2 separate regions of the Homo sapiens genome follow, and region 1 is linked to region 2. The links come from fine-mapping of genetic effects on gene expression. A gene starts in region 2. The other region holds a variant in brackets. All regions are shown on one strand. Distances are between the middles of the regions. Region 1 overlaps PRH1-TAS2R14 (PRH1-TAS2R14 readthrough). Region 2 holds the start of TAS2R20 (taste 2 receptor member 20).

Evidence for each region. PIP is the estimated chance that this variant, and not a neighbour inherited with it, causes the effect. A credible set is the group of variants that fine-mapping cannot tell apart.
Region 1: its variant is the best candidate, but not a certain one, in a credible set for the expression of TAS2R20 in whole blood (TOPMed, PIP 0.84).

What each region holds. Positions count from the first base shown.
Region 1 is chr12:11,145,391-11,150,783 of GRCh38, forward strand. The region is part of intron 1 of PRH1-TAS2R14 (PRH1-TAS2R14 readthrough); the gene reads right to left. All of the region lies in intron 1 of PRH1-PRR4 (PRH1-PRR4 readthrough), which reads right to left. It also overlaps a transcript of PRH1 not described here. Among named protein-coding and RNA genes, the nearest start is that of TAS2R30, 13 kb to the left of the region's middle. The variant C/T (reference allele first, on the strand shown) is at 2,504.
Region 2 is chr12:10,995,837-11,001,229 of GRCh38, forward strand. TAS2R20 (taste 2 receptor member 20) reads right to left here and starts at 2,468. Exons shown (of 1, transcript NM_176889.4): 1 at 125-2,468. The coding sequence starts at 2,039. The coding sequence ends at 1,110. The region is part of intron 3 of PRH1-TAS2R14 (PRH1-TAS2R14 readthrough); the gene reads right to left. All of the region lies in intron 3 of PRH1-PRR4 (PRH1-PRR4 readthrough), which reads right to left. It also overlaps a transcript of PRH1 not described here.

The DNA of each region.
Region 1 (5,393 bases), 150 kb after region 2:
CCATGTTGGCTAGGATGGTCTGAAACTCCTGACCTCAAATAATCTATCCTCCTTGGCCTCCCAAAGTGCTAGGATTACAGGTGTGAGCCACCATACCCAGTCTACATGTTCTAAAAAATGAAATTGTTCCTCACTGATACATAATCCCTCAATATTAGAATTTCTCAAATTAAATTCCTGAAAATGTTAGAATTAAAAGGTATTTTCTAAAACAGAAAAGGATTTCACAGAAAAGGAAATTTGGGAAACTCCACATAGAGCACTTCCTTTTACATACTAACAGAGTATACAGAAAGCTTATGATTTAAAAACAAACAAAAAGGTTAAAGTCGCTTAAGCCAGCATTGCCTAAAATATTTAAAAATTAAGAACTTTTTTTTTGTAACAACTATGAATATTCTGCTGAACTCTGAGAAATTCTGCTCTATATCTCTTTTAATGACAAATGTGTATTCTGCTATAATGAAGCATTATAATGTTTTTAAGCATAAAAAATGTTAAGGCTTTTATCTTAATGTTAACAAACTATACATAGCTCTATAACTGTTTTTGCATATCTGTAATCATTTTATGATTATTTTTAGAAACGTTTCAGAAATATGTAGTTATACATGCATATCAAAAAGTATGTGTACATAGATACATAGATATAAAGTGTATGTATTTTTATGCTAAATTCGCTTTGACTATATCCTACTATATGCTTCTACCAGTAGTGAAAGAGATTTTTCATGTTTCTGAGCTTTTTACTATCTGGATACCTTTTTAGTATTTTTATAATATATTTTACCAACAGATGTTCCTCATTCTGTGCGTCTTTACACATTTTTTTTCTTTCAGTCTTTTTCTAGTATTCATTCTGCTTTATTCTTCTAGGTAGTTTTTTTACTGAATCTAAAGTGTTTCCCAGGCCCTTAGCATAATAAACTACTCTAAATGAGAAAAAAAATGGCAATATTTGCCTTAACATCTTACATGTATACCTGAATTTGGCAAGAATTGATGTCATCACAACAATGAGAATGTCATCTAAGAACATGATTTTTTTATTAGGTAAAATGAGTATTTTTAATTTCATCCATATATTCCTAGTTTTAATACTCTTTCTGTATTCATTATCAAATGCCTAGATGTATAATTAGACTAGAGTCAGACAGCTAACTTAGCTGGATTAATTAACAGATCTTTCCAAGGAATTTAAAACTTATCAAACTTTTCCTTTATGTTTCGTGGTTTTTGTATCTTTCAGATAAAATCCTCACCTACCCTGAATTTATAAAATAATTTACATTTTTCTTAGCTTTAAATTTTGTTCTTAATGTTTAGATCTTAGTCCTTTTGGACTATTTTTTGTGATACAAGTTACACACTGATTTTCCTCCTTATGAAAAGTCCATTATCCAAACAATTTACTGCAAAAAACACATCTTATCTACTAATTTCTAATGATAATCTTATTATAAGACAAATTACATGTGCACAAAAAGTAAATTACCTAAATATATTCTGCCTTACTATTCCCTTTTGTTGTCTATTGCATCCTTCTGTGCCAAAATTCTTTCAATTTTCATAATTACACTATAATAAATCTTGATACCCAGTAAAGAACTTACCTCCTTCTTTTTCCAAGTTTTCTTGCCTATCTCCGAACTGTTAATTTTCTATATGTATTTTTCAAGTCATTTTTCACAATTTTCACAAAACTTTAATAAGACTTTGCCACAACTTGCATTGACTATATTAATCTAGAAAGAAATTATATTTTATAATACTCAGTTTATCTATGAACATGATACATCTCTTCATGTATTGTTTTTGAAACAATGTCTCACTCCAGTTGCCCAGGCTGGAGTGCAGTGGCACGATCTCGGCTCACTGCAGCATCAGCCTCCCAAGATCAGATCCTCCCACCTCAGCTTACTGAGTAGCTGTGACTACAGGTGTGTGCCACCACACACCGCTAATTTTTGTATTTTTAGTAGAGACAGGGTTTCACCAGGTTTCCCAGGCTGGTCTCGAGCCCCTGGACTCAAGGAATCCACCTGCCTGGGCCTCCCAACATGCTGGGATTACAGACATGAGCCATGACACCTGGCCAAAGAATTTTTTAAATTTACATATTGTAATTTACTGTTGGCAATAGATACACTGTTTTTTGGTAAATCGATGTTATATGAAGAACCTTGTTATCTTTTCTTATGCTAATAGTACCTGTTGATTCTTTAGGAGTGTTCATTTAAGCAGTGACATCATCACATCATTATACTGTAAATTTGTCTATCTCATTCCAGTTCCTAGATGAGTTTATATTGCTTGTCCTATTACATTAGCTAAAAGTGCTAGAACAATGTTGAGTTCTACAGATGTTAAAGAGCATTTCTGCCTTATTTAAGATATCAGTGAACTTTAAAGTAGTTTTCCAATTCTGTGAAGAAAGTCATTGTTAGCTTGATGGGGATGGCATTGAATCTATAAATTACCTTGGGCAGTATGGCCATTTTCA[C/T]GATATTGATTCTTCCTACCCATGAGCATGGAATGTTCTTCCATTTGTTTGTATCCTCTTTTATTTCATTGAGCAGTGGTTTGTAGTTCTCCTTGAAGAGGTCCTTCACATCCCTTGTAAGTTGGACTCCTAGGTATTTTATTCTCTTTGAAGCAATTGTGAATGGGAGTTCACTCATGATTTGGCTCTCTGTTTGTCTGTTATTGGTGTATAAGAATGCTTGTGATTTTTGTACATTGATTTTGTATCCTGAGACTTTGCTGAAGTTGCTTATCAGCTTAACGAGATTTTGGGCTGAGACAATGGGATTTTCTAGATATACAATCATGTCGTCTGCAAACAGGGACAATTTGACTTCCTCTTTTCCTAATTGAATACCCTTTATTTCCTTCTCCTGCCTCATTGCCCTGGTCACAACTTCCAACACTATGTTGAATAGGAGTGGTGAGAGAGGGCATCCCTGTCTTGTGCCAGTTTTCAAAGGGAATGCTTCCAGTTTTTGCCCATTCAGTATGATATTGGCTGTGGGTCTGTCATAGATAGCTCTTATTATTTTGAGATACGTCCCATCAATACCTAATTTATTGAGAGTTTTTAGCGTGAAGGTTGTTGAATTTTGTCAAAGGCCTTTTCTGCATCTATTGAGATAATCATGTGGTTTTTGTCTTTGGTTCTGTTTATATGCTGGATTACATTTATTGATTTGCATATATTGAACCAGCCTTGCATCCCAGGGATGAAGCCCACTTGATCATGGTGGATAAGCTTTTTGATGTGCTGCTGGATTCGGTTTGCCAGTATTTTATTGAGGATTTTTGCATCAATGTTCATCAAGGATATTAGTCTAAAATTCTCTTTTTGGTTGTGTCTCTGCCCAGCTTTGGTATCAGGATGATGCTGGCCTCATAAAATGAGTTAGGGAGGATTCCCTCTTTTTCTATTGATTGGAATAGTTTCAGAAGGAATGGTACCAGTTCCTCCTTGTACCTCTGGTAGAATTCGGCTGTGAATCCATCTGGTCCTGGACTCTTTTTGGTTGGTAAGCTATTGATTATTGCCACAATTTCAGATCCTGTTATTGGTCTATTCAGAGACTCAACTTCTTCCTGGTTTAGTCTTGGGAGAGTGTATGTGTCAAGGAATTTATCCATTTCTTCTAGATTTTCTAGTTTATTTGCGTAGAGGTGTTTGTAGTATTCTCTGATGGTAGTTTGTATTTCTGTGGGATCGGTGGTGATATCCCCTTTATTATTTTTTATTGTGTCTATTTGATTCTTCTCTCTTTTTTTCTTTATTAGTCTTGCTAGCAGTCTATCAATTTTGTTGATCCTTTCAAAAAACCAGCTCCTGGATTCATTAATTTTTTGAAAGGTTCTTTGTGTCTCTATTTCCTTCAGTTCTGCTCTGATTTTAGTTATTTCTTGCCTTCTGCTAGCTTTTGAATGTGTTTGCTCTTGCTTTCGCCAAGTCAATCCTAAGCCAAAAGAACAAAGCTGGAGGCATCACGCTACCTGACTTCAAACTATACTACAAGGCTACAGTAACCAAAACAGCATGGTACTGGTACCAAAACAGAGATATAGATCAATGGAACAGAACAGAGCCGTCAGAAATAACGCCGCATATCTACAACTATCTGATCTTTGACAAACCTGAGAAAAACAAGCAATGGGGAAAGGATTCCCTATTTAATAAATGGTGCTGGGAAAACTGGCTAGCCATATGTAGAAAGCTGAAACTGGATCCCTTCCTTACACCTTATACAAAAATTAATTCAAGATGGATTAAAGACTTAAACATTAGACCTAAAACCATAAAAACCCTAGAAGAAAACCTAGGCATTACCATTCAGGACATAGGCATGGGCAAGGACTTCATGTCTAAAACACCAAAAGCAATGGCAACAAAAGACAAAATTGACAAATGGGATCTCATTAAACTCAAGAGCTTCTGCACAGCAAAAGAAACTACCATCAGAGTGAACAGGCAACCTACAGAATGGGAGAAAATTTTCGCAACCTACTCATCTGACAAAGGGCTAATATCCAGAATCTACAATGAACTCAAACAAATTTACAAGAAAAAAACAGACAACCCCATCAAAAAGTGGGCAAAGGACATGAACAGACACTTCTCAAAAGAAGACATTTATGCAGCCAAAAAACACATGAAAAAATGCTCATCATCACTGGCCATCAGAGAAATGCAAATCAAAACCACAGTGAGATACCATCTCACACCAGTTAGAATGGCAATCACTAAAAAGTCAGGAAACAACAGGTGCTGGAGAGGATGTGGAGAAATAGGAACACTTTTACACTGTTGGTGGGACTGTAAACTAGTTCAACCATTGTGGAAGTCAGTGTGGCGATTCCTCAGGGATCTAGAGCTAGAAATACCATTTGACCCAGCCATCCCATTACTGGGTATAAACCCAAAGGACTATAAATCATGCTGCTATAAAGACACATGCACACGTATGTTTATTGCAGCACTATTCACAATAGCAAAGACTTGGAACCAATCCAAATGTCCAACAATGATAGACTGGATTAAGAAAATGTGGCACATATACACCATGGAATACTAAGCAGCCATAAAAAATGATGAGTTCATGTCCTCTGTAGGGACATGGATGAAATTGGAAATCATCATTCTCAGTAAACTATGGCAAGGACAAAAAACCAAACACTGCATGTTCTCACTCATAGGTGGGAATTGAACAATGAGAACACATGGACACAGGAAGGGGAACATCACATTCTGGGGACAGTTGTGGGGTTGGGGGAAGGGGAAGGGATAGCATTAGGAGATATACCTAATGCTAAATGACGAGTTAATGGGTGCAGCACACCAGCATGGCTCATGTATACATATGTAACTTACCTGC
Region 2 (5,393 bases):
AGCTCATGATCATGTTTCTTCATCCTTTTTATAGAAATGATTTTTTCTAAGCTATTAACATACTATATTAAATATAATATTCCTCAGTATTGCTTTTGATACACATAAAAATGTACACTAGATATATTTTTCACCCTTGAATTTTATTTTGTGCATTGTTATCTAACAATAATTGTATTTGCTTTATATTAAACATAAAATAAGAATTCATCATGAATGTCTATAATCCCAGCACTTTGGGAGGCTGAGGCAGTGGATCACTTGAGGTCAAGAGTTCGAGACCAGCCTGGCCAGCATGGTGAAACCCCATCTCTACTAAAAAAAAAAAGAAAAATACAAAAAATTAGCCACGTGTGGTAGCGCATGCCTGGAGTCCCAGCCACTCAGGAGGCTGACGCATGGAAATCACTTGAACCCCAGAGGTGAACGTTGTGGTGAGCCAAGATTGTGCTACTGCATTCCAGCCTGGACAACAGGGCAAGACTCCATCTCAAAAAAAAGAAAAAAAGAATTCATGATTAAAAAAAAAACAAAAAAACCTACCCCAAAGACACATTCTCATCGATTTAGAATTAAATGTCCTTACCATCCAAAAAATTAGAGGTTCAAACAATGATAGTTAAACAGTTAAACACACTATGGTACATATACGTGATACAAATTACAACGAAAAACAGCAATGATTTTACAACGAAAAACAGCAATGATTTTCTGATATAAGCTGTCAGTTCTTAATTATAAATAGAGATCATAAATTCCTCAAATGAAATATCATATAAAAAAATGTGTGAAATACACATGGGTTCATAATTCTGAGAAATTTCTTATCCTACTTTGGTATAACTGAACAGTTTATATGAAAAGTTGATTAAAGGTATGTTATGGTAAATATTAAATTTTCATATACATTCAGACATACACACACACGCAAATGTATATTATATATATATACTTTTATATAATAAACTTAGGTAAAAGACTTTTCTATGTCAACTTTTGGAAATTACTCAAATACATAGACTACGGAAAAACTTGTGGGAAATATAAAATGTTCCAGACACCATCAATTTGTTTTCTGCTAGAAAACACACAATGCACCTCTTGTGAATCTATGGAGTTGACTGGTTCTGTCCTTTTGCCCAGCAAGTCACCTGCCACAAAACTGAAAGAAAGGTCTGCTTTAGCGTCTTGTTCCCCCAAATCAGAATGAATGAGTGGAATGATGGATATATGATTCCAAAAGCTTGGCAAAGCATTAAGACAATTTCTTTTGGTCGCATCTTAAAATTCCAAAACGATATGATTAGACACAGAAAGTAAATGGCAAGTAATATGAGGAAGGAGGTCACAGTTTGCAGAGCTTTTATGTGGATCTTGGTGCTGGGATCTTGAGATCCTTTGCCATGGAGCTGCATCTTCTTCAGATGTTTACACAGAGAGTAGATTAACAGCAGAAAAGATATCAGGGTCAGAGTGAATGGTATCAAGTTTGCTAGCATGGCTACAGTCAAGTTGGAAAGGTGCATTGCATTCCTCAGTTTGATCTTCCAAGTTACGTTTCCTTCACATTCTTCTGTCCACACATTTATATACGTGTGTTTCATCACAAGGTGACAAACCAAAAAGAACAAAGACCCCAACACTATCACCAGAACTACACTCTTAGCCTTCCTTTTTAAGTGATGAAAAATAAGTCTGGAGAAATTGACGATCTTGAGCAAATAAAATATGCTGAGGCTAGTAGCAAGCCAGATGCTGAAATGATTGGTTACTGCCCAGGCATTAGAAATAAAAATTATTACTTTTAAATTAGATGAAGTTGGATTCAACACAGTTGAATACCAATGTAATAATATTACCCAGAGCAAACCAACTCTGGAGACTGCCAGAGCAGCAATAATTTGATCAGCTGAGGAGATCTTTTGTCTCTTGACCCAGGCAATGAAATTTATCAGTGCTATAAAGCCATTGGCAAAATTTCCAAGAATAAATGCAACCACTACTAGAATGGAAAAAACAATGTGTAGAAAACTCATCATGTCTAAACAAAAAAGCAAGTAAAAAATTCAGGCCTAATGTCACTGATGGTGACTCCTCTGATATTCAAGACTTTAAGTTAAATATGCACTTGATTCCTGAATGTCCAATAACATTCTTTATACTTTTAAATTCTGTGAACAATGTCAACAGAAAAGCACCAGCTTAAACTAATGAATGAGTTCAATGCTGCCTTTATGGGAAATACTGTTAGTCCCAAAACAACTCAAATTAATTCTTATTCATAAAGTCTCTATTCTTGCTATAGGCTGAAATTTTTCATACTGATGTTGAAGGGAAAGCTGAATTCTCATTTGCTAGCATTCAAATAAAGACATATCCTCTTTCATTGCTTTGCAATTTTTTCCTTGTTTCACCTTTCCATAATTTGTGTTCAGCCCTTCAGTTGTTGGGGAAATTTTAATACCCAGTACATAGATGACACAAAAAATATATTGTTAAAAGAGCCTGGTGAAATCTAGGATCAAAATCACTATGGATTTATTTTTAAAGCCAGATTTAAATACACAGAATCTAAACTTTTTATCAAAATCACCTAAGATTTTCTTGGAAACCACAGGAAAGCCAATACTCCTTATAATTTGGTTGCTGTTAACCAATACTTCTATATGGCATCACTATTAACAAGCTCATAAACACACACACAGACACACACACACTTTCACTCTTCAAGGATGGAAGGAATTGCTTTCTTGTAACTTATGACATGGAAAATGAGTTTCCAGGAGCTCGTCCTGGTGGAATTAGTCCTATTTTTCCCATGCCAGATTTTCAGCCAATGAATAATATTCATGAAACATATCTCTCATGCTTAGGCTTTTGGTAATGCTACCTGCAAGCTTGTAAACATTCCTGAGTACCAGACCTTTGTCACATAATTTTGCAGTGTCCTCCCACCACAGGCATAGTGACAACCTTGCACTAGGGCTCTGAGTTCGATCATGTAATTTGCTTTGATGAACAGAAAATTACTACACTTTACATCGAAATTTGAGATGACCTCCACATTAGGCTTTCTTGTTCCTTTCCGGTTTATAATGAGAACATGTCCACACTAACACACTGTTCCCAGAATAAGAATGAGTAACTCATGGAATCATATGGCTCCTGCCTGATCCAGCCTTAAATCGGCCAAACTCTAACTAGATCCAAGAGGCAAAACTTGGACCATCTCAAATCACCAGAGCCATCCACCAAACCCCAGCTTAAGAAAACAGAATCCAAAAACATGTGAGATATAAATATCTAATGTGGTTTTGGAGAAGTTTCTTTTGCAGAAAAAGCTAAGTGATATAGGTACTCTGCTAATCCAAGAGTTTGAGAAATATGTGCGCCCTTGTTGTGTCAGAAATTCAGGAGCCAAAGGAAAAATAGGTTGGAAATATCAAAGTTTTTGTAATATGAGGTGAATATCTAAAACTAGAAGAAAACTTTTGGAAAGATCTGGAGGCTGTAGGTAACAGCATCTCAAATTTCTCCATTTTGCAACTAAAATAAGAATTCACTTTAGCTCTCTTGAGTTGTATAAGAATGTACGTAAATGGTGGATTTTCCCCCTAGGTATATAATGAGCAGAGCAATTAATAATTTTTACGTGACATTTCTCCCAATTTGTAATTTTTTAAATAAAATTATAATGCACACTTAGAAATGGGCCAAAACAAAAATAGGTAAGAGCAATGTATCATAAACACTTATGTAACCATCATGCAGGATAAGACATGGAACACTGCAAACAGACTAGGTCCACTTCCAGGCCACTTTCCAAGCCCCTAAACCTTTATTCACATCTCCTGAGATAAGCAATATTCATAATCTATGATGATCATTTGCTTGAATTTCTTTATACTTTACCAGCTAGGTTCACAACCCTAAACTCCACAGCTTGGTCTGTCCTGCTTTGAACTGTGTATAGGTGCAGTCCTGTGTGTTCTTCTTGTTCATGGCTTCTTGCACTAGATATCATGTTTCTGAAATTTAGTTACATAGTTGCATGTACATGTGATTCATTTCTTTTCACCTCTATATACTGTTCCACTGTATGGATTTACTGTAATCTTTCATATCATTCAATCATCCTTAGTTAATATATATTTGGGCAGTCTATTTTTGAGCTATTATGAATAATACTACTATCAGCATTATTTCACATATCATTTGATGCAATTCCTATTATGGGGTCATTAAATGTGGTGTTCAAATTATCCTCACAGACATAGAAAAGTGCAAAAAATAATTTATCTAAATTTGTTCCTGTCACCTTTACCTCCAGTCTCTTTATCGCTATTTGCATATATCTTATCAATAATATATTTAACTCAGCAAGACGCTATTATTTTATTCAGTCAACATTCATTTAGAATTATGCACATATTTATCATTTCTGTTAATTTTTATTCCTTCTTGCATGCTTAACCTTGTATTTTCAATATTTTTTATCTGAAAAATATCATTTGGATTTCTGTTTATGAAGGTCCTCTATTCTTTTGAAACACACTAAAGACATGATTCCATTGAATTCTACTTTCCATTTTTCTGTTGAAAATCAGGTTGTCATTTAGAAAGTTGTTCCTTTTAAAATAATCTATCTTTTCCTCTGGCTACTTTTCAGATTTTCTACTGGTCTTTGATGTCTTGTGACATTTTATGTTAATTTGTTTTTAGTTATCTTGTCTGACCTTTGATGGTTACTAAAAATATATGGATTAATACATTTTATCACTTTTGGGAAAATCTCCACAACATTGATTCTGCCCTATTTTATCCCTTTTAATCTTCCAGAAATCCAGAAGTATGTTAGATGCTCTGATTGTAGCATCAATGCCTCTTATCCTCTTAGCTTGGCATTCTTTGTCTTGTGGTCTCTTTAGGCTTCTTTCTTTATAGTTGTCTTCCAATTCACTAATTCTCTCTTCTATGTCTAACTGGTTGTTAACTCTGTCTATTGGATTCTCAATATTGATTATTTATTTTTTGCTATTATTGTTTTAGTAGCAGAAATTATATTTTGTTCTCCTTCTATAAATCATTATCTATGGAGAAGCAGAACAAAGCACTCTTACCACCAAGTTTTTTAAAAAAAGTTGGGTTCTTTGTTCAGTTGGTTGGCTTTGTTTTTTTGTTTTTCGTATGCTTGACATGAAAATGCTAACAATTTTCTTCTTTTCCCAAGACTTTGGTCACAAAATAGAATAAAAGCTTGGTCTACACATCCTTCCGCAAGTTGGAAGAACCTGGAAATTGATGTGATGTTAGTAGCTTTTTTTTTTAGGGGGGGATAGCAGCTTGTCTGTTGATGAGTCTTCACCACAAACTCTCCCCACAGGGAAATTCAA